Homo sapiens: one gene and its partners. Each later gene encodes a partner of the first gene's protein in a complex. Each region holds a gene or a part of one and is shown in the gene's direction. Other genes may lie near its edges.

The links. The genes of interacting proteins can lie anywhere in the genome.
Region 2: TFDP1 (region 1) and LIN9 share a complex: the UniProt entries of both Homo sapiens proteins name them as parts of the DREAM complex.
Region 3: TFDP1 (region 1) and LIN52 share a complex: the UniProt entries of both Homo sapiens proteins name them as parts of the DREAM complex.

The regions. Positions count from the first base shown.
Region 1 is NC_000013.11:113,636,685-113,642,041, forward strand, and holds the end of TFDP1 (transcription factor Dp-1), read left to right. Parts: coding exon 1-16; intron 17-935; coding exon of another isoform or gene 936-1,133; coding exon 1,134-1,212; intron 1,213-3,435; coding exon 3,436-3,583; 3' UTR 3,584-4,789; downstream 4,790-5,357. UniProt on the Homo sapiens protein: Can stimulate E2F-dependent transcription.
Region 2 is NC_000001.11:226,285,165-226,292,164, reverse strand, and holds part of LIN9 (protein lin-9 homolog), read left to right. Parts: intron 1-4,367; coding exon 4,368-4,501; intron 4,502-5,706; coding exon 5,707-5,832; intron 5,833-7,000. UniProt on the Homo sapiens protein: Acts as a tumor suppressor. Inhibits DNA synthesis. Its ability to inhibit oncogenic transformation is mediated through its association with RB1. Plays a role in the expression of genes required for the G1/S transition.
Region 3 is NC_000014.9:74,087,956-74,094,955, forward strand, and holds part of LIN52 (protein lin-52 homolog), read left to right. Parts: intron 1-3,276; coding exon 3,277-3,351; intron 3,352-7,000.

The DNA.
Region 1 (5,357 bases):
GAGCCATACGTGACAGGTCAGCAATGCCCAGACAACCTGGCGTGGCTGTGTGAGGAATGGCCCCCAGCCTCCGACGGTGCCCTCCCCTCCCGGCTCGGGATGTGTCTTGCTGAGATCAGGCCCACGTGTGTAGGGCCAGGAGCAAAGACAAAGGGGCTGTGAGGGGGATGAGGGCAGGGGTGTGGCTGGGGTGGGGTCCAGCCAGTGCCGTGACCCACTGGATATGGGGGCCTTGAGTCCACAGGTGGCTCGTGTGGATTTCCTATGTGGTTTGTGTGAGGAGGTGCTAAGTCAGGATTTTACCCTCCAAGTAGGCCCAGAAGTAGAAGTTGAGATTCTTTGAGAAGTGCAGTTGGATTGCTGATCCCACCCACTGATGGTAGCTGATTGGTCACTAGGGCAAAGTCACCAAGAAAAAGCATTTCAGAGTCATTGGCGTCCTGCTCCGGAGGGCCGGGAGCACAGGAGCTTTTGTTGAAGGAGCTTTTTTTCTGTTCTGGTGAATTCTTTCCTTGGGGGCCGTAGGGTCCCAGCCACTGACAGCAGGATGGCTTTAAGGTGAGAAATTGTGAAGGTGTCATATCTGCTGATCCTTCTCTTGTTAGCCTAAACTTGGGGTGTAGATTTATTCCCTGAGAGGGTCAGAGATTCCTCCCTGAGCTCTTAGACTGCCCCAGATCTTGTGAAAATCTGGCTGGTCCATGTTGTCAGGTGACAGTGGGCTCTGGCCGCCCACGTGGGCTGGGCCCTGACCCCGGCCTCTGTCCCGTGCTTCATGGAGCTGCCAGGATGGGCTGTGGGAAGAGGGTTTCAGCTTGACACTTTGATTCGGTTCCGTTTCACGATGGGTATGATACTGAGGCAGCAGCACACGTGTGCCGTTTGTAAGTCAGTGTGTGCAGGTATTTATTGCAAGGCTGTTCTTGCCTTTTTAGAGAAGACAGGCTTATGTGACTGCACAGCGGGATGTCCTGCTCCGTGGCGCAGTGTGGAAAATACTGGACAAGCGAAGGATATCCGGAAGCTTCTACAGCCGTCTGTCCTGTGGAACTGCGCGTCATTTTGTTGGTTGCCTGTGCGTCTTGTGTTGTTTCTGTTTCATGACCATTCGCTTATTTTCTTTCCCTTTTCAGAAATGGCTCAGGGAACTGTTGGAGGCGTGTTCATCACGACGGCAGGTTCCACGTCTAACGGCACAAGGTTCTCTGCCAGGTGACAGTCGTTGAGGGTGTGGGAGAGGCGTCATCTGGGCCTCCCCCGGGGTCCAGGGGCCAAGGCAGGGCAGCCGTCTCAGGTGTGGCCATCAGGTCTGTGGCTGCTCTGACGTGGCTTGTCTGTCCAGGCAGTGGGGCCCCGCTGGCTTTCCCTGTGTGGAGAGCTGCTTTTCTTAGTTGGTTTCTGCTCACTAAAAACTGAAAGTAATACATGGTGGTTTTTTTTTCATAGTATCACCTAATAAGTAAAGTAGGAATGAAAACCACCCAAATCCTCCTGTCCCCGGCAGCCCAAGTAACAGCAAGTATTTCCAGGTTTTTTTTCCCATTTTTCAGAACGCGTCTGCGGTCACAGCGCACGTATTTTTCAGAACGCGTCTGCGGTCTGGGCGCAAGTAGTTTTCAGAACGTGTCTGCGATCACAGCACACATTTTTCAGAACGCATCTGCGGTCATGGTGCATGTGTTTTTCAGAATGCATCTATGGTCATAGCGCATGTATTTTTCAGAACGTCTGCCATCACGGCGCACGTGTTTTTCAGAACGCGTCTGCGGTCTCGGCGCACGTGCTGCGATCACAGTGCATGTATTTTTGCGAACGCGTCTGTGATTATGGTACACGTATTTTTCAGAACGCGTCTGCAATCACAGCGCACGTATTTTTCAGAACGCGTCTGTGGTCACAGCACACATATTTTGTTCCGTGCATTTTTCAGCTTACATTTTATTGTATGAATATATATTGTTTCTATGCTATTAAAGGGCCTTTATTTAAATAAATTTGTATTTAATCTTTGACCTGCAATCCCACAGAGTAGAATGGTGTCCCTAGGTATTGATCTTAGTGCTTCAAAGATAAATATAACTTTTATGGTAAATATTAACAAAACAATGATTTTATTAACTTTTATATTGCATTGTGATACAATATATAGTATTACTTTATATTAATCTTAAGTGTTAATAAAATCTTTAATTAGAAATACAAGAACTCAGTAACCTATGGGTCCGGGTAACAGGGCTCGACATAGTGAGTTTCAGTGTGCTTGAGCCTGCGTTGGGATGTGCTGTGGCCATGAGATGTAACAGGTGTGTCGGGCACGTGTAGCTTCCTGGCCAGCTCTGGAAGTGCAAAGCCAGCCTTGGCCTCCTCACCTGTAAGGTGAGACTGGTGATTGATGAGTTACTGATCTGTGGCAAGGATCAGTGAGGTGGTGATGGAAGAAAGGACTTTGGTGACAAGCTTTTGACAGAGGCCGGTTCTCCTTCTGTTGTAGCTATGTGTGAACGTGTGGCGGTCAGTCTGTAAACATGTTTAATGCTGCTTCTTCCATGAGGTGGGATGTGGGTATTTTTAGGACTTTTATCATCACATAATCCTTTTTATGGATGTGATTCTTCAGACTTGTCAGTTTTTCATAACAATGGAAACAAAGCTATTACCATTTCTTACGAAATACCGATTTTCATAGTGGCATGATGAGACATTTTATACAAGTACCTCATGAAAGGACATCTAGGTAGTTCCCAGTTAGAATAAAAACTGCAGTGAGCAGCTTTACAGCTGAATTTCTCGCCATTTCTGACTTGTTTCCAAGATACAGAATTACTTCATCAAAAGGCACATTAACACATTTTTATTGTAGTGTTAATAAATACCATTAAAATGTATTAAAATATGTACATATGGTTTTATGTTAATTGAAAACATCTTTAAACATTAGGAACGTAGTGAGCTCTGGTTGGTGGTAGGTTTTTGTGGTGCTGCCAGCCCTCTGGGTTCTCAGTCCCCGCTGCCAGATTCGACCCACGCTCTGGACTCCATCCTGTCCTGCCCCGGGCTCTCTTTTTTCCTGTTGCTGGTTATGAGTGAAAGTCCCGGAGGGAGGGATCTAATGGTTTTACAGTTTGTTCCCTCTGGGGCACTGCTCCTGATGGAATGATGAGTGAGGGAGAGGCAGCGTGTGGCTCTGCTCAGCCTCCTGTTTCTGTCGTTATGGGTTCCAGGAGACAGGGCCAGAAGAGAACCAGACAGAGATGGAGTAAGTGCCAGAGCGTTGGCGTGCTGTAGTGCAGACACTCAGCCTCCCCGTTCTGTTTGTGTGACTGACAAAACCCACACCTGTGGGGCACAGCCTGTCATTTGACCACAAGCCCTGAGGCGGGGGGAGGCTGGGTGGGCCGCCTGCACTGACGGCGCCATCCGCCTCCTGCCTTGCAGTGACCTGACCAACGGTGCAGATGGGATGCTGGCCACAAGCTCCAATGGGTCTCAGTACAGCGGCTCCAGGGTGGAGACTCCGGTGTCCTACGTCGGGGAGGACGACGAGGAGGACGATGACTTCAACGAGAATGACGAGGACGACTGACGTCCTCCCCACTTCAGATTCGGCTTCAGGAAAACGTTTAGCGAAAAGAAACTTTTTTTTTAATGTGGGTTTTCTGTTTCCTTTTGGCCTACTCCCAAGAAGATATTGGTAAGCTATTGAATTTAGATATGCACCTCTGATAAGCAAGGATTGTTTCCCGTAGGATTAGGACGTGCTGTGGATGTGTGTTTTGATACCAGTGTGCTGATGCAGAGCGTTTATTTACTTGTTAGGATTTTGTGTTTTCATTTGCTATTTTTCTTTAAGTGCAGAGTTCATTTTTGCCCCTGAAAAGTTTTTGCTGAGTTTGCTGAAGAAATTGTATTTCAACCACATCCATGAAAATAAAACACCTCCTGTTGTGGATGGTGAGCCCCTGATGCCGCTTATTTGCCGTGAGTTTGGACGGCACCCCTGCTGGCGGATAGCAAGACTCTGTGGAGTTTGTTCAGTGGTACGGTGTCCAAGCAAACAGCAGAATGCAACTTTCTAAACAGCCCCAAGCAAACAGCAGAATTCAACTTTTTAAACAATAAACACCATCAACCTTATTGACTTTATTGTCCCTTAAATTATATTGACTGTTGTGATTCCATCAAGTTTGTACACTCTTTTCTCTCCCTGTTTTGCAGCAACAAATTGCGAAGTGCTTTTGTTTGTTTGTTTTCGTTTGGTTAAAGCTTATTGCCATGCTGGTGCGGCTATGGAGACTGTCTGGAAGGCTTGGAATGGTTTATTGCTTATGGTAAAATTTGCCTGATTTCTTACAGGCAGCGTTTGGAAACCTTTTATTATATAGTTGTTTACATACTTATAAGTCTATCATTTAAAGACATGTACTGAAACAAATGTATTTGTTTCATAAGCATCTTCCTGTAATCTATTATAAAATTGAAATTAAATATAGAGAATGTTTTAACAATTTTTTAACTCAAAATTTGTCAATCATTTTTAATAGTTCTTTTTTTATAAAAAGAAAAAGGAATTTAAGGACAGGCAGTAGTCTCTTTTAAAATTTATTCACAAAACCCATTAACTGCACAGTTGCTATTAGCTGCCTGTTCTAAAACGATAGTCTTTTTATTGAAACACAAATAAACTTTTCTGTAATATTTTATGGTATATAAAGAGACTTTAATTGTTTGACTTGTTTAACTTGGCACTGTTAGTTTTTATTAATAAAACGCGCATGGGCATTTTAAACAAGCTGTGTTTCTCTAATTCAGGATTATTATCTAGAAATTTGTCTGTCTTGTTGGTTTTACTTTATACTTGAGTGAGAAAGTAGGTTGTTAGGCCCAGACGCGGTGGGCCCGGGTGGTCCCTGTGGGTGCAAACCCCACCACCACATGTTGTCTGAGGCACATCCTCCGGGAGCCCACCCTGAAAAGGTGGAAGGTGGCCAAGGGTGGAGGTCTTGGTGGACACAGGGCAAAGAGGCACCTTCCTTTTCGGTGCCTGTGGTGCAGAGAAAGATAAGCCAAGTTCCTTGGCCTTTTTTCACAATGAAAATTGAGACAAAATTTAAAAGTTTGACTTTGAGAACAAGAATAAGATTGAGAGGATTCTGGGAAGATGGTGGAATAGGGAGCACCAGGAATCTGGCTGCCCAGGTAGATGTCTACCTCGCGGGCAGGATCTGCCTGATGCAGCTGTTCTGTAACTACGGAATCTACTGAAGGCTTAAAGCTTTCAAGGGAGGCTTGGTCAGCACATTGCAGTTAATTTTGGTCCATTTCAGCTTTCTACCCCGACCTCTGTTCCTTCATTTTTC
Region 2 (7,000 bases), on another chromosome or scaffold:
AGATTCCCTCTAACAATTTGAATCTATTTTCCCATACCCAACAGGCGGGTCCTTAATATAGTTTTATATTCGATGAGCTGCTAATACCCTATATACCCTATTTAAAAATCTGGGTCAATAATGTAGTAGAAAGAAATAACACTTTTTGTGATAAGAATATTTTATAGTAATTTGGTTATTTATGCTAAACATCTCCTCACTTATAAATTTTTTCTTTTTTCTTCTTTTTACATTTAATTTTTTTTTTTCTCCTGAGAATGGTCACTGAGGGAAAACAAAGAAAAACAAAGTTATTTTTCTAAATGCAGTGTGGTATCCTGAATTGGTTTCTGGAACAGAAAAAGGATGTTGGTGAAAAAACTGGTAAAATCCAAATAAAGCCTGTAGTTTAGTTAATAGTATTGCACTAGTTTTGACAAATATACCAAAGTTACTATAAGATATTGATGTTAGGGAAAGCCAGGTGAAGGGCATGTGGGAATATGTACTATCTTTGCAACTTGCCTGTAAATCTACAACTTTTCCAAAATACAAAGTTTATAATAAAAATTTTAAAATTTTGACCCTAACTTACCATTCCAATATGTACTTCCCTCATACAGTGGCAGCCACTATAATTAGTTTGATTATCCTTATGAAACCTTTTAAATATACTTTTAATGTATTCATAGAAAATATTTAATATTGTTAAATGTATATATATTTTTTCTTTTTCTAAATGTATGTATTCTAAAAATTACATTTGTAGTATCATTTTCATGGTATTGTGCCATGTGTCATTCTGTAATTTTTTCACTGTCTTTTTTTGAGATCTGGCCATGTTGATTGATTGAGATAATCGGATTCAGTGTTTCATTTCTTTTTACTATTGAATAGTATTCAATTTTATATCATTATTTATAAATTCTCCCATTTGGGAGCATTTAAATTGTTCGTAAATTTTTACTTTGACAAATAATGCTGCAGTGAACATCCTGAGCATGTTTGTATAAATTTGCAAGTTTTTTTCTAGGACAGATGCCTAAGATGTGGAATTGCTGGATCGTAAATTATGTACATTTAAAGTTTTTAAAGCAGTACCAAATACTCTCCGAATAAATTGAACTGGGACCATGCACAGTGGCTCACACCTGTAATAGCAGCACTTTGGGAGGCCGAGGTGGGCAGATCACCTGAGGTCAGGAGTTCAAGACCAGCCTGGCCAACATGGCAAAACCCCATCTCTACTAAAAATAGAAAAATTAGCCAGGTGTGGCGGCACGTGCCTGTAGTCCCAGCTACTCGGGAGGCTGAGGCATGAGAATAGGTTGAACCTGGGAGGCGAAGGCTGCAGTGAGCCGCGATCGTGTCAGTATGCTGCAGCCTAGGTGACAGAGCAAGACGCTGTGTTAAAAAATTTTTTTAAAAAAAGGAAAGAAATTGTACTGGTTTATATATATTAGAGTTCCTATTTTCCAAATGCCTCCAACTCAGTACAGAACCAACCATCTAGATTTTTGCTAATCTGATATATAGAAATAGCCTTGGCCGGGTGCGGTGGCTTACGCCTGTAATCCCAGCACTTTGGGAGGCCGAGGTGGGCGGATCACGAGGTCAGGAGATCAAGACCACCCTGGCTAACACGGTGAAACCCCGTCTCTACAAAAAATACAAAAAATTAGCCGGGCGTGGTGGCGGGCGCCTGTAGTCCCAGCTACTCGGGAGGCTGAGACAGGAGAATGGCGTGAACCCGGGAGGTGGAGCTTGCAGTGAGCCGAGATCGTGCCACTGCACTCCAGCCTGGGCAACAGAGCGAGACTCCATCTCAAAAAAAAGAAAAAAAAAAAAAAAAGAAATAGCCTCTCACTTGTTTTAGTTGGCATTTTATATAAGAGCAAAGTTGAGACACTTTTCATATGTTTAAAAATTATTTCTTTCCTTTTCTGTAAACTGTTTATGCCTTTTTCCCATTTTTCTATTGGATTGTGGGTCATTGTGTTACTAGTTTATAAGAATTTTGTATATATTAAAAATATTGGCCCTTTGGATGTTTATAATGGCTGTAATTTTTTTTAGAGTTTATAGTTTGTCTTTTGATTTGTTTCTGTATTTTTTAACATATGGGATTTTAAAATATTTTAAGGATCAAATGTAACTTTGTTACCTTTTAATGACTTCTTGAGTTTGTCATGCTCAGAAAGACCTTTTCTACACTAAAATTTATCATTTTAGAATTCTCTCATATTTCATTTTTTTGGTTTGAACCTTCAGTACATCTGGAATTTATTTTGCAGTAAGGGATGAAGTAAAATTGCAACCTAGCTTTCCCACCCCCCCCCACCCCCCCCCCCGGAGGACTACTTAGTTGTCCTAGTAACATTTATTGGGTAATCCATCTTTTTAAACATTGATTTAAAATGCTGCCTTCATCAAAGCTAAATTCGTATAAGTATTTGGGATTACTTTCAGGCTTTCTATCTCTACATCTAGCATATCTCTATATGTGCTAGTATCAAATTATTTTGGCTGGGCATGGCAGCTCATACCTGTAATCCTAGCTCTTTGGGAGGCTGAGGCAGGAAGATCGCTTGAGCCCAGGAGTTTGGGACCAACCTGGTAACATAGCGAGAGCCCGTCTCCACAAAAAATGCATGAATTAGCCCAGTGTGGTGGCACATGCCTGCAGTCCCAGCTACTTGGGAGGTTCAGGTGGGAGGATGGCTTGAGCCCAGGAGGTCAAGGCTGTAGTGAGCAATGTTTGCACCACTGCACTTCAGCCTAAGTGACAGAGAGAGAGACCCTGTCTCAAAAGAACAAACAAAACCAAAACACACACACACACACACACACAAAATTGGTTTAACATGACTTTATACTGTGTTTTAATGCCTGGTAAGATATTATCACATATTCTTTTTTTGAGATTTTTTTCCTTTTCTTTCTTTTTTTTTGACATGGAGTCTCACTCTGTCGCCCAGGCTGGAGTGCAGTGGTGTGATCTCTGCTCACTGCAACCTCCGCCTCCCAGGTTCAAGCTAGTCTTCTGCCTCAGCCTCCTGAGTAGCTGGCACTACAGGCACAGCCACCACGCCCGGCTAATTTTTGTATTTTTAGTAGAGATGGGGTTTCACTATATTGGCCTGGCTGTCTGGAGCTCCTGACCTTGTGATCCGCCCATCTCGGTCTCCCAAAGTGCTGGGATTACAGGCGTGAGCCACTGCGCCCAGCATAAGATTTTTTCCTAAATATTTTTGTGCATTTATTTTTCCATGTAGACTTTAGAATCAACTTGACTAGGAAAAAAAAATCCTGTTGGCATTTTGACTGGGATTGGACTAATATTATAATTTATGGGAAATGATATATATAGGTAACATTGAGACTACCTAAGAACTGATTGTAGTTCCACTTAGTTCATAGTATTTCACAGTAGACTTAATTTTTTTCCATATCAGTCTTGCATGTTTCGTAAGTATATTCCTACATATTTAATTTTTTTGTTTATGTCCATTTTTGTGCTGTTATAAACAGGATATAAACTCTTATGGCCTGTCCAGTTATTATTTACATATAGTGATTTTTTTGAATCATGGTTTTTGTATATCAACTTTGTATTTACCCATTTCATTAAATTTTCTTACTGTTTTTAATTGTTACAGTTGATTTTCTTGAGTTTTCACCTACAAGGAAATGGTAGTTTTATCTTCTTTCTAAATTTTATTCTTCTTACCTGATTGGCCAATTCCTTCAAAACAGTGTTATGAAATAGTGGTGGTAGTTGAAATCTTTGTCATACTAGGTTAGTGGTGGTAGTTGAAATATTTGTCGTTCTCATCGTCTTTTAATATTACGATACTGGTTTTTGGGTTGGAGTGGGGAGAAATGTTTTATTAGGTTAAAAAAGTATCCATCTAAGCTGGGCGCTGTGGCTCACACCAGTAATCCCAGCACTTTGGGAGGCTGAGGCAGGCAGATTACCTGAGGTCAGGAGTTTGAGACCAGCCTGGCCAACATGGTGAAACCCCATCTCTACTAAAAATACAAAAATTAGCTGGGTGTGGTGGCGTGCGCCTGTAGTCCCAGCTACTTGGGAGGTTGAGACAAGAGAGTAGCTTGAACCCGGGAGGCAGAGGTTGCAGTGAGCCGAGATTGTGCCACTGCATTCCAGCCTGGGCAACAGAGCAAGACTGTCAAAAAAAAAAAAGGCAATAATCAAAAATAATCGGAGTGTTTAAAACAGCAACAAAATTCCATGTTGAATATCAGTGAATCAGTGAACCTTTTTAAGTACTTAAACATAATTTACCTTTTGCAAATTTATTCAGGGTTATAAATGTTCATTTTTACTTAATGGAGCCATAAATTAATCTCTTTTTTTTATTGTATAGAAATTTACAGCAACAATGTCAACACCAGATAAGAAAGCTTCACAGAAGATTGGTTTTCGATTACGTAATCTGCTCAAGCTTCCTAAAGCACATAAATGGTGTATATACGAGTGGTTCTATTCAAATATAGATAAGTATGTATCATGGCTTATATTATGAATATTACTTGAATCAGAAATTTAAGTTTTTCAAGTGTTTTAAGCTACAACATTTTCTATAGGTCTACTTTGATCTTATTTTTCTCTAAATTCATTTTTCTGTTCCACATTCCAGTTGGATCTATTCTATTTGTCATAGTTTTCTTCCCTGTTATCCTTTTTGGGGAAGAAAACTGTACATTTTTGTGAAGAATTGATTACGGTATAATTTCTGTGTTAGAATTCTTAAAGACTATGGAGTAGAGATACCTTAAAACACCATTATTTGCAGTGAATGAGATTCATTTTATAATTGAGATGTTAAGTGCTGGTATAATCATAGAGAAACCATTACTAATGGTAAAAATGGCTTAAGATTTTTAAGAGGGTAGTCTTTCTAGTTTGGATGTGGTACTTAAGCACGCTAGGTATACACATATGCTTAAGTATGACGTAGTATGAGATTTGGCTGAAATACAATTATTCAACAATGGAATTTACTGAGGAAAAGTTCTTATTTATAATCCTTCCTCATATGCCAGTCATTGCTGCTTGCTCTGCTGGATATTTATATTTTCTTCCCTTCTCTGTTTTCTATACCAATTGCCTACTCTGGAGCTTGTGAATCTCATGAATGTTCATATTTGAGCCCAAGGCATTTATGTATCATTGCCAACACTGGTTCCTGGTTTCCCAGACTCATGAATAGAATTGTTTTATTTTTGTCCATAGGCTTAAGAGAGTTTTCAGGGTGTCTCAGTGTAATCTGAGTTCTTCTGGGATCCCCCAAGCTAATCTAACCCTCTGGAGTCCTCCAGTGTCCCAAGACTGGTTTAATTCCAAAGAGGACTCCTTGGTGATGGTATTCCTTTGGGACAAAGATACTTTGTAGCTAACTTGGTTTATCTTCACCTGATACAAGGCCAGGGCCACGATAGCCTCCCAAAGGATATACCTGTATAAGAGATTGAACAAAAATCAGTGTCTCTTGGAATCACAACACAAATAATATTTCCTGAGCAACTTTTACACGACATTAGATGTTTCACAAATGCCAAGGATTTAGTTTTAGCACTTTGAATTTGTGCCAGTTTATATATATATATGGGGTAGAAGTGAAAGTTTAGCATTTTGTGATTTTATGTGTTTTAAGAAAGTAACACATTGTATGTAACCATTAAAATACTATATCTGTTTTACAGACCACTTTTTGAAGGTGATAATGACTTCTGTGTATGTCTAAAGGAATCTTTTCCTAATTTGAAAACAAGAAAGTTAACAAGAGTAGAATGGGGAAAAATTCGGCGGCTTATGGGAAAACCACGGAGGTAAAAATAATGTTTTTGTTTTTGTTTAAAATAAAATCAAGCCAGTAGCAGTGCATGTACTTATAATCCCAGTTACTTGGAAGGCTAAGATGGGGTATTTGCTTAAGGCCAGGGGTTCAGGGCTGTAGTATGCTGTGATTACACCTGTGAATAGTCACTGCACTCTAGCCTGGGCAACACAGTGAGACCATTCCTCTAAAAAAGAATTAAAAAATAAAATCAATAAATAATAGTTGTTAGTATCATTAGTACATTGATTTTTTTAATCTTTAAAATGACTAGTACCAAAACATAACTTTTCAGAATAATTGATTATATGTTAAATATATCCTGTTAACCAACTTTAATGTAGGTGCTGTTTATACGTATGCATCTTATAATTAAATGCACAATTTCATTTTTGTTAGGATCACAGGTTTTCAACGTAATTTTTTAGTTTTACATTATCTATGTCCCTCTGTGTTCCAAAAAATATTTAAGAATGTCCTAAAAAGTATTTAAGGATGCTGTAAAGTTCTGTGTACATTTTTGTTATCTTTTGTGAAATCCTTTATAATCTCAGGAGCCTTCCCAGAAGTGCCTATTTTATTTTATATAAAAGTAGAAAACAAATTAATCTATCTAATATGTTACTTCCTGAGAATTGCTCTTCATGTGAAATGATTTTTTCTTTTCCAGTGTTATCCTGGTAACACATTGGAAAACCTTATATTACTTTTGAGTGAAAATTGGAAATATGTTAGAAGAATAATTAGATCATTAGTTCTCACATTATGTCTATCTGCCTGGTAAAAAGTATGTGCAAGACTTTTTCATTTTAAATGGTGGGAAAGTTCAAGGAAGGTCTGTAAATATAAAGTGATTTGGACAAATAGAAATGGAATTTAGATTTAATGATTTCTTTAGATGGTGATGAAATACAGAGAGAACTTTTAATTAAACTGTCATCAAGATGACCTTGATGATGATGTTTTTAATATTTCTTATAATAACAAAATTAAAATTTGATATGTTATTTAGTGTGTTTCATACTCATAATTTATGGCCTTTGGTAATTACAGTAGCCATTTGGTGACTTTTTGCTATCATTTTGCGTGTTTGAGCAAATTGAGTTACACTGTTTCTAATTATTGTCCATCAGAGTGGGATATTGGTCACTATTTACTGT
Region 3 (7,000 bases), on another chromosome or scaffold:
TTGCCCATGCTGAAATGCAGTGATATGATTATAGCTCACTGCACCCTCAAAGGCTCAAGCGATTCTCCCATCTCAGCCTCCTAAGTAGCTGGTACTATAGGCTCACACCACCATGCCCAGCTAATTTATTATTATTATTATTTATTTTGTTTTGAGACGGAGTCTCACTCTGTCACCCAGGCTGGAGTGCTGTGGCATGATCTCGGGTCACTGCAACCTCCGCCTCCTGGGTTCAAGTAATTCTCATGCATCAGCCTCTCCAGTAGCTGGGATAACAGGCACACGCCACCACACCTGGCTAATTTTTGTATTTTGAGTAGAGACGGGGTTTCACCATGTTGCCCAGGCTAGTCTTGAACTCCTGACCTCAGGTGATGCACTCACCTCGGCCTCCCAAAGTGCTAGGATTACAGGCGTGAGCCACCATGCCCCCACCTTATTATTTTTTGTAGAGATGGAGTCTCACTATGTTGCCCAGGATGGTCTCAAACTCCTGGGCTCAAGCAATCTTCCTGCCTCGGCTTCCCAAAGCACTGGGATTCCAGACATGAGCCACTGTACCTGGCCCAATAACTTTACTTTTGTTATGGTTGAACATTCCTCAGAAATCGGTAACAAAGAGAAGCTAATTTTTGGATGCTTTAATTAAGGCAATGTATTAGTTGAGTTCTTTACAATTAAAATGCCATTGGAAATTCCTTTGGAATATTTGGCAAAACAAATTCAGTTTAGAGAAAAGTACATTTTGTACGTATGTATATTTTCTGGGGAGTGAGTTCATTTTATTTCCCAGATTTCCAGAGATGTGGTTACCCAGAAAATGTTAAGAACTGCTGTTTATAGCATTAAATGAACTAGTTATGCAACTGGTTAGCATACTGAGCATACAATAAAAACTCAACAAATGTTAATATTGAGTACTACTGTGTGCAAGGGAAGAGTGGAAGAGAAATGATGTCAAAGAATTAGGTAGAGGCTGAGTAAGATTTTATAGAGTGTGGTAGATACACATTCACAGATTTAGCTGGGAGGAACTTTAAGCTGGAGAGAGACACGAACTGATTGACGTTTAAAAAAATCAATTCTGGCCTCTTTATGGAGAATAGATTCCGGGGGTGTGAAGGGGAAAGGGTAAGAATGGGAGCAGAGAGATCTGTTAAGAGGCTGTTGAAGTAGTCCAAGAAAGAAGTGATGGTTCCTTGGGTTATTTGATTTCAGGGTGTATTCTGAAGGTAGAAACGACTAGATTTACTCATGGATTGGTTATGGAAGGGTGAAGGAAAAGAATGCATGAAGGATGACATCTGGGTTTTTGATCTGAGAATTGGAATTTATGGTAGTGTTATTTCTTGAGATGGGAGAAGATTGGGGGAATATGGTTTTGAAGATAATTAGGTTTAAAGTTTAAGTGGGGATTTTTTTTTTTTTTTTGAGACAGGATGTGGCTCTATCACCCAGGCTGGAGTGCAGTGGTGTGACCTTAGCTAACTGCAGCTGCCACCTCTGGGCTCAAGCCATCCTTCCACCTCAGCCTCCCAAGTAGCTGGGACTACAGGCTGACACCACCACACCTGGCTAATTTTTTTGCTTTTTGTAGAGATGGGTTTTCACTATGTTGGCCAGGCTGGTCTCAAACTCGTGAGCTCAAGCAATCCACCCACCTCGGCCTCCCAAAACTGCTGGGATTACAGGCGTGCACCACTGCATCTGGCCTTAAGCAGTTTTTTTATATGTAAATAGAGAGGGATTCAAATAACCACTTGGACATAAACCTTTGTAGTTCTTTAGAAAGGTTGGGAATGGAAATATAAATATGGAGTCATTGGCATACAGATGAAGATAAAAGTCCTCATGTTGAAATAGGGGAGTTCCCTAACCGCAGGACATACGACAGGGGTGTGGCTTGTCTGTGTGCACTCAATCCTCTTATGGGAGAGGGAGCACGCAGATGGGCAGGTGTAGGAGTCAGGGCGAGCACTTTTGGGCTCCAGCCCCACGGTAGCATCTAGGGGTGGGTGCCTGTGACTCCCAAAGCCCAAGTGGGCATGTATAACAGTGCACTCTTTTTTTTTTTTTTTTTTGAGATGGAGTCTTGCTTTGTTGCCCAGGCTGGAGTGCAGTGGTGTGATCTTGGCTCACTGCAACCTCCACCTCCCAGGTTCAAACGATTCTCCTGCCTCATCCTCCCCAGTAACTAGGATTACAGGTGTGTTCCCCCATGCCTGACCAATTTTTGTATTTTTAGTAGAGACAGGGTTTCACTATGTTGGCCAGGCTGGTCTTGAACTCCGGACCTCAAGTGATCCACCCATCTTGGCCTCCCAAAGTGCTGGGATTATAGGCATGAGGCACCCCACCTGCCCTGGTGTTTTTTGTTTGTTTGTTTGTTTGTTTTTTTGAGATGGCGTCTCATTCTGTTGCCTGGGCTGGAGTACAGTGGTGCAATCTTGGCTCACTGTAACCTCTGCCTCCCGGGTTTAAGCAATTCTCCTCCCTCAGCCTCCTGAGTAGCTGGGATTACAGGCGCCTGCTACCACACCCAGCTAATTTTTTGTATTTTTAGTAGAGACAGGGTTTCACCACGTTGGCCAGGCTGGTCTCAAACTCCTGACCTTGTGATTCACCCGTGTTGGCCTCCCAAAGTGCTGGGATTACAGGCATGAGCCACCATGTCCGGCTGGGGTTTTTTTTTGAAACACAGAAATTCTGCAACCAGCTTGATTGGTACTGCTCCTTTTTAAAGAGATTTTTAAAGAGTTACTTATTTTGTAAAGTTTTATTTATTTTGAAGCTAGTCAAATTTAGCAGTGGGGGGTTGTGTACAAACTTTAGTGACACTGAGATGAGGCTAGAGAAGGTAGAAACTGATGGTACCTGAGAAAGATGATATGCAAATGATGTCCTTGATAAAGCAAGAGAAGATGGCATCTAGAGTGCTATCAGAAGAGTCTGTTTCATGGAAGGAGAAACACTTAATTCATTGTAACTGGAGGAAAGCACAAGAGTATGAATGAAGATGCAGGTGGGTTCATTGATACTCATTTTTCTTAACACTCCCAATAAAATATCATTCCCATTCATAGATTGAAAGAGTGAGGTTTGGTAAGGGAGAATGATTTATTTGTATTCTATCACGGACCAGTGGCATCAATAGTTACAGAACTCATATCTCTAGACTTCCAGGTGAGTGTTCCAGTTTATGTCCTTTGAGATTGAAGTATCATATACATTAATGTGTTTCCTGTCTTCTTGGTTCATCTGGATGTTTTGTTCTAGGGACAGATCTGGAAGCATCTTTGCTAAGTTTTGAAAAACTTGACCGTGCCTCACCAGATCTTTGGCCAGAACAATGTAAGTTTTTGCCTTCTTTATATCAGAGTCAATGCAGGAGAAACAATGTTCCTTTTTAAAGAGATTTTTAAAGAGTTATTTATTTTGTAAATTTTTATTTATTTTGAAGCTAGTCAAATTTAGCAGTGGGGGGTTGTATACAAACTTTAGTGACACTAACGTTAATAAGTTCTGATAACAGGCTGAGCTTGTTGGCTCATGCCTGTAATCCCAGCACTTTGGGAGGCCGAGTTGGGAGGATCACCTGAGGTCAGGAGTTTGAGACCAGCGTGGCCAACATGGTGAAACCCTGTCTCTACTAAAAAAAAAATAGAAATATTAGCTGGATGTGGTGGCACACACCTGTAATCCCAGCTACTCAGGAGGCTGAGGCATGAGAATCTTTTGAACCCAGGAGGCGGAGGCTGCAGTGAGCAGAGATTGTGCCACTGCACTTCAGCCTGTGTGACAGGGTGAGACTCTGTCTCAAAAAAAAAAAAAAAAAAAAAAAAGTTCTGATAACCCATTACCATCAGACCAGGCTGAAGAGTTATCATTTAACTTTAATGATTAAAGTTTTATTTTATTTCAAAGAGAAGAGATTGAAGTCCAGTGTTAAGAATAGCTGTTTGGTGGTTTAATTTGTTCAGAACACAGTGTGACTCAGAAAATAAGGAGCCATTAAACAATAATAATTATTTTGTTTGAACCAGAGTCTCTCTCTGTCGCCCAGGGTGGAGTGCAGTGGTGCACTCGGGTCACTGCATCCTCTGCCTCAGGGTTCAAGCGATTGTCCTGCCTCAGCCTCCCAAGTAGCTGGGACTACAGGTGCATGCCACCATGCCCGGCTAATTTTTTGTATTTTTAGTAGAGACAGGGTTTCACCATGTTGGCCAGGCTGGTCTCGAACTCCTGACCTCAGGTGATCCACCTGCCTCAGCGTCCCAAAGTGCTGGGATTACAGGTGTGAGCCACCGTGCCTAGCCAACAATAATTATTATTATTATATATATGTATATATATATATATGTTTTTTTTAGACGGAGTTTCGCTCTAGTTGCCCAGGCTGGAGTGCAATTGCTCAGTGTTGGCTCACTGCAACCTCTGCCTCCCAGGTTCAAGCGATTCTCCTGCCTCGGCTCCCGAGTAGCTGGGATTACAGGCACATGCCGCAATGCCCGGCTAATTTTTTGTATTTTTAGTAGAGACAGGGTTTTGCCATGTTGGCCAGGCTGGTCTCAAACTCCTGATCTCAGGTGATCCACCCACCTCGGCCTCCCAGAGTGCTGGGATTACAGGCGTGAGCCACCATGGCTGGCCATTAATTACTTTTTAAAACTACATTTATAGGCTGGGCATGGTGGTTCATGCCTGTAGTCCCAGCACTTTGGGAGGCCAATGCGGGTGGATCACTTGAGGCTAGGAGTTTGAGACCAGCCTCGCCAACATGGCGAAACCCTGTCTCTATCAAAAATACAAAAATTAACTGGCCGTGGTGGTGCACACCTGCTATCCCAGCTACTCAGGAGGCTAAGGCACGAGAATTGCCTGAACCCGGGAGGCGGAGGTTGCAGTGAGCCAAGATTGCACTATTGCACTCGAGCCTGGGCAACAGAGAAAGACTCTTTCTCAAAAAAATCCCCCAAACTACACTTATTTGTTTGTTTGTGTATTTATTTATTTGAGATGGAGTCTTGCTCATGTCGCTCAGGCTGGAGTGCAATGGTGCAATCTCGGCTCACTGCAACGTCCGCCTCCCTGGTTCAAGCGATGCTCCTGCCTCAGCCTCCCGAGTAGCTGAGATTATAGGTGCCCGCCACAATGCTCAGCTAATTTTTGTATTTGTAGTACAGACGGCTTTTCACCAAGTAGGTTGGTCTTGAACTCCTGACCTCAGGTGATCCGCCCACCTCGGCCTCCCAAAGTGCCGAAATTTCAGGAGTGAGCCACCACAGCCAGCCCCCAAAACTACATTTATAAGAAATTCACATAATACTGAGATATATAAAGCGTTTTCTCACCTTTTTCAATCACTCTTTTTTTTTTTTTTTTTTTTGAGATGGAGTTTCACTCTTGTTCCCCAGGCTGTGCAGTATAATGGTGCAGTCTTGGCTCACAGCAACCTCTGCTTCCGGGTTCAAGCAATTCTCCTGCCTCAGCCCCCCAAGTAGCTGGGATCACAGGTGCATGCCACCACACCTGGCTAATTTTTGTATTTATAGTAGAGAAGAGGCTTCACCATGTTGGACAGGCTGGTCTTGAACTCCAGACCTCAGATGATCTGCCTGCCTCAGCCTCCCAAAGTGCTAGTATTAGAGGCCTGAACCACTGCACCTGGCCCACTCTTATAACGTTAACCACTGTTAATCGTACAAATCCTTGTAAAAGGTACAACTCCGGCCAGGTGTGATGGCTCACGCCTGTAATCCAAGCACTTTGAGAGGCCGAGGTGGGCGGATTACCTGAAGTCAGGAGTTTGAGATCAGCCTAGCTAACATGGCGAAACCCCGTTTCTACTAAAAATACAAAAAATTAGCTGAGCGTGGTGGCACATGCCTGTAATCCCAGCTACTTGGGAGGCTGAGGCAGGAGAATCGCTTGAACCCGGGAGGCAGAGGTTGCAGTGAGCAGAGATTGCAGTGAGCTGAGATCACTCCATTGCACTCCAGGTTGAGCAACAAGAGTGAAACTCTGTCTCAAAAAAAAAAAAAAAGGTACAAATCCTTTTGACCTATTTTATACAGATAAGGAAATAATAATTTTTTAAGTATGTATAAGAGGGATTTTTTTTTTCTTCATAATGTTGGAGTCATATGCATGTGGCCTGCCACTTAACTTACTCCACATGTGAACAGTTCCATCTTGGTATGTGTATGTCTACTTCATTCTTTTAAATATATTTCATTGTATGGATATATTATAGTTTATGTATTCATACATTATTTGGAAACTTAAGTTATATCTACTTTGTAGTTTTTTTTTTTTTTTAATTTGAGCAAGGGTCTCACTCTGTCACCCAGGCTTTGTGCAGTGGCGTGATCACAGCTGACTGCAGCCTCAACCTCCTGGGCTCAAGTGATCCTCTCACTTCAGCCTCCTGAGTAGCTGGGACCACAGGCATGTACCACCACAACCAGCTATTTAAAAAATTTTGGGGGGGACAAGATCTCACTGTGTTGCCCAGACTGGTCTCAGACTCCTGGGCTCAGGCTGTCTTTCCACCTTGGCCTCCCAGAGCACTGGGATTACAGGTGTGAGGCACTGTGCCTGGCCTATATCTAGTTTTTGACTTTACAGACAGTTTATCAGTGAATACCCATGTACACATATCTTCATATACATGGAAGAGGATAACTGTATGAGGGCCCCTTTCCTCACATACTAGCCAGTATTAGATGTTACTAATCTATTAGTTTCATTTTACATTTCCTTTTTGGTGAGATTGAACTTTTTTTTTTTTGAGATGGAGTCTCGCTCTGTTGCCCAGGTTGGAGTGCAATGGCGTGATCTCAGCTCACTGCAACCTCCACCTCCCGGGTTCAAGCAATTCTCCTGCCTCAGCCTCCTGAATAGCTGGGACTACAGGCACATGCCGCCACACCCAGCTAATCTTTTGTATTTTAGTAGAGACGGGGTTTCACTGTGTTGCCCAGGCTGGTCTCCAACTCCT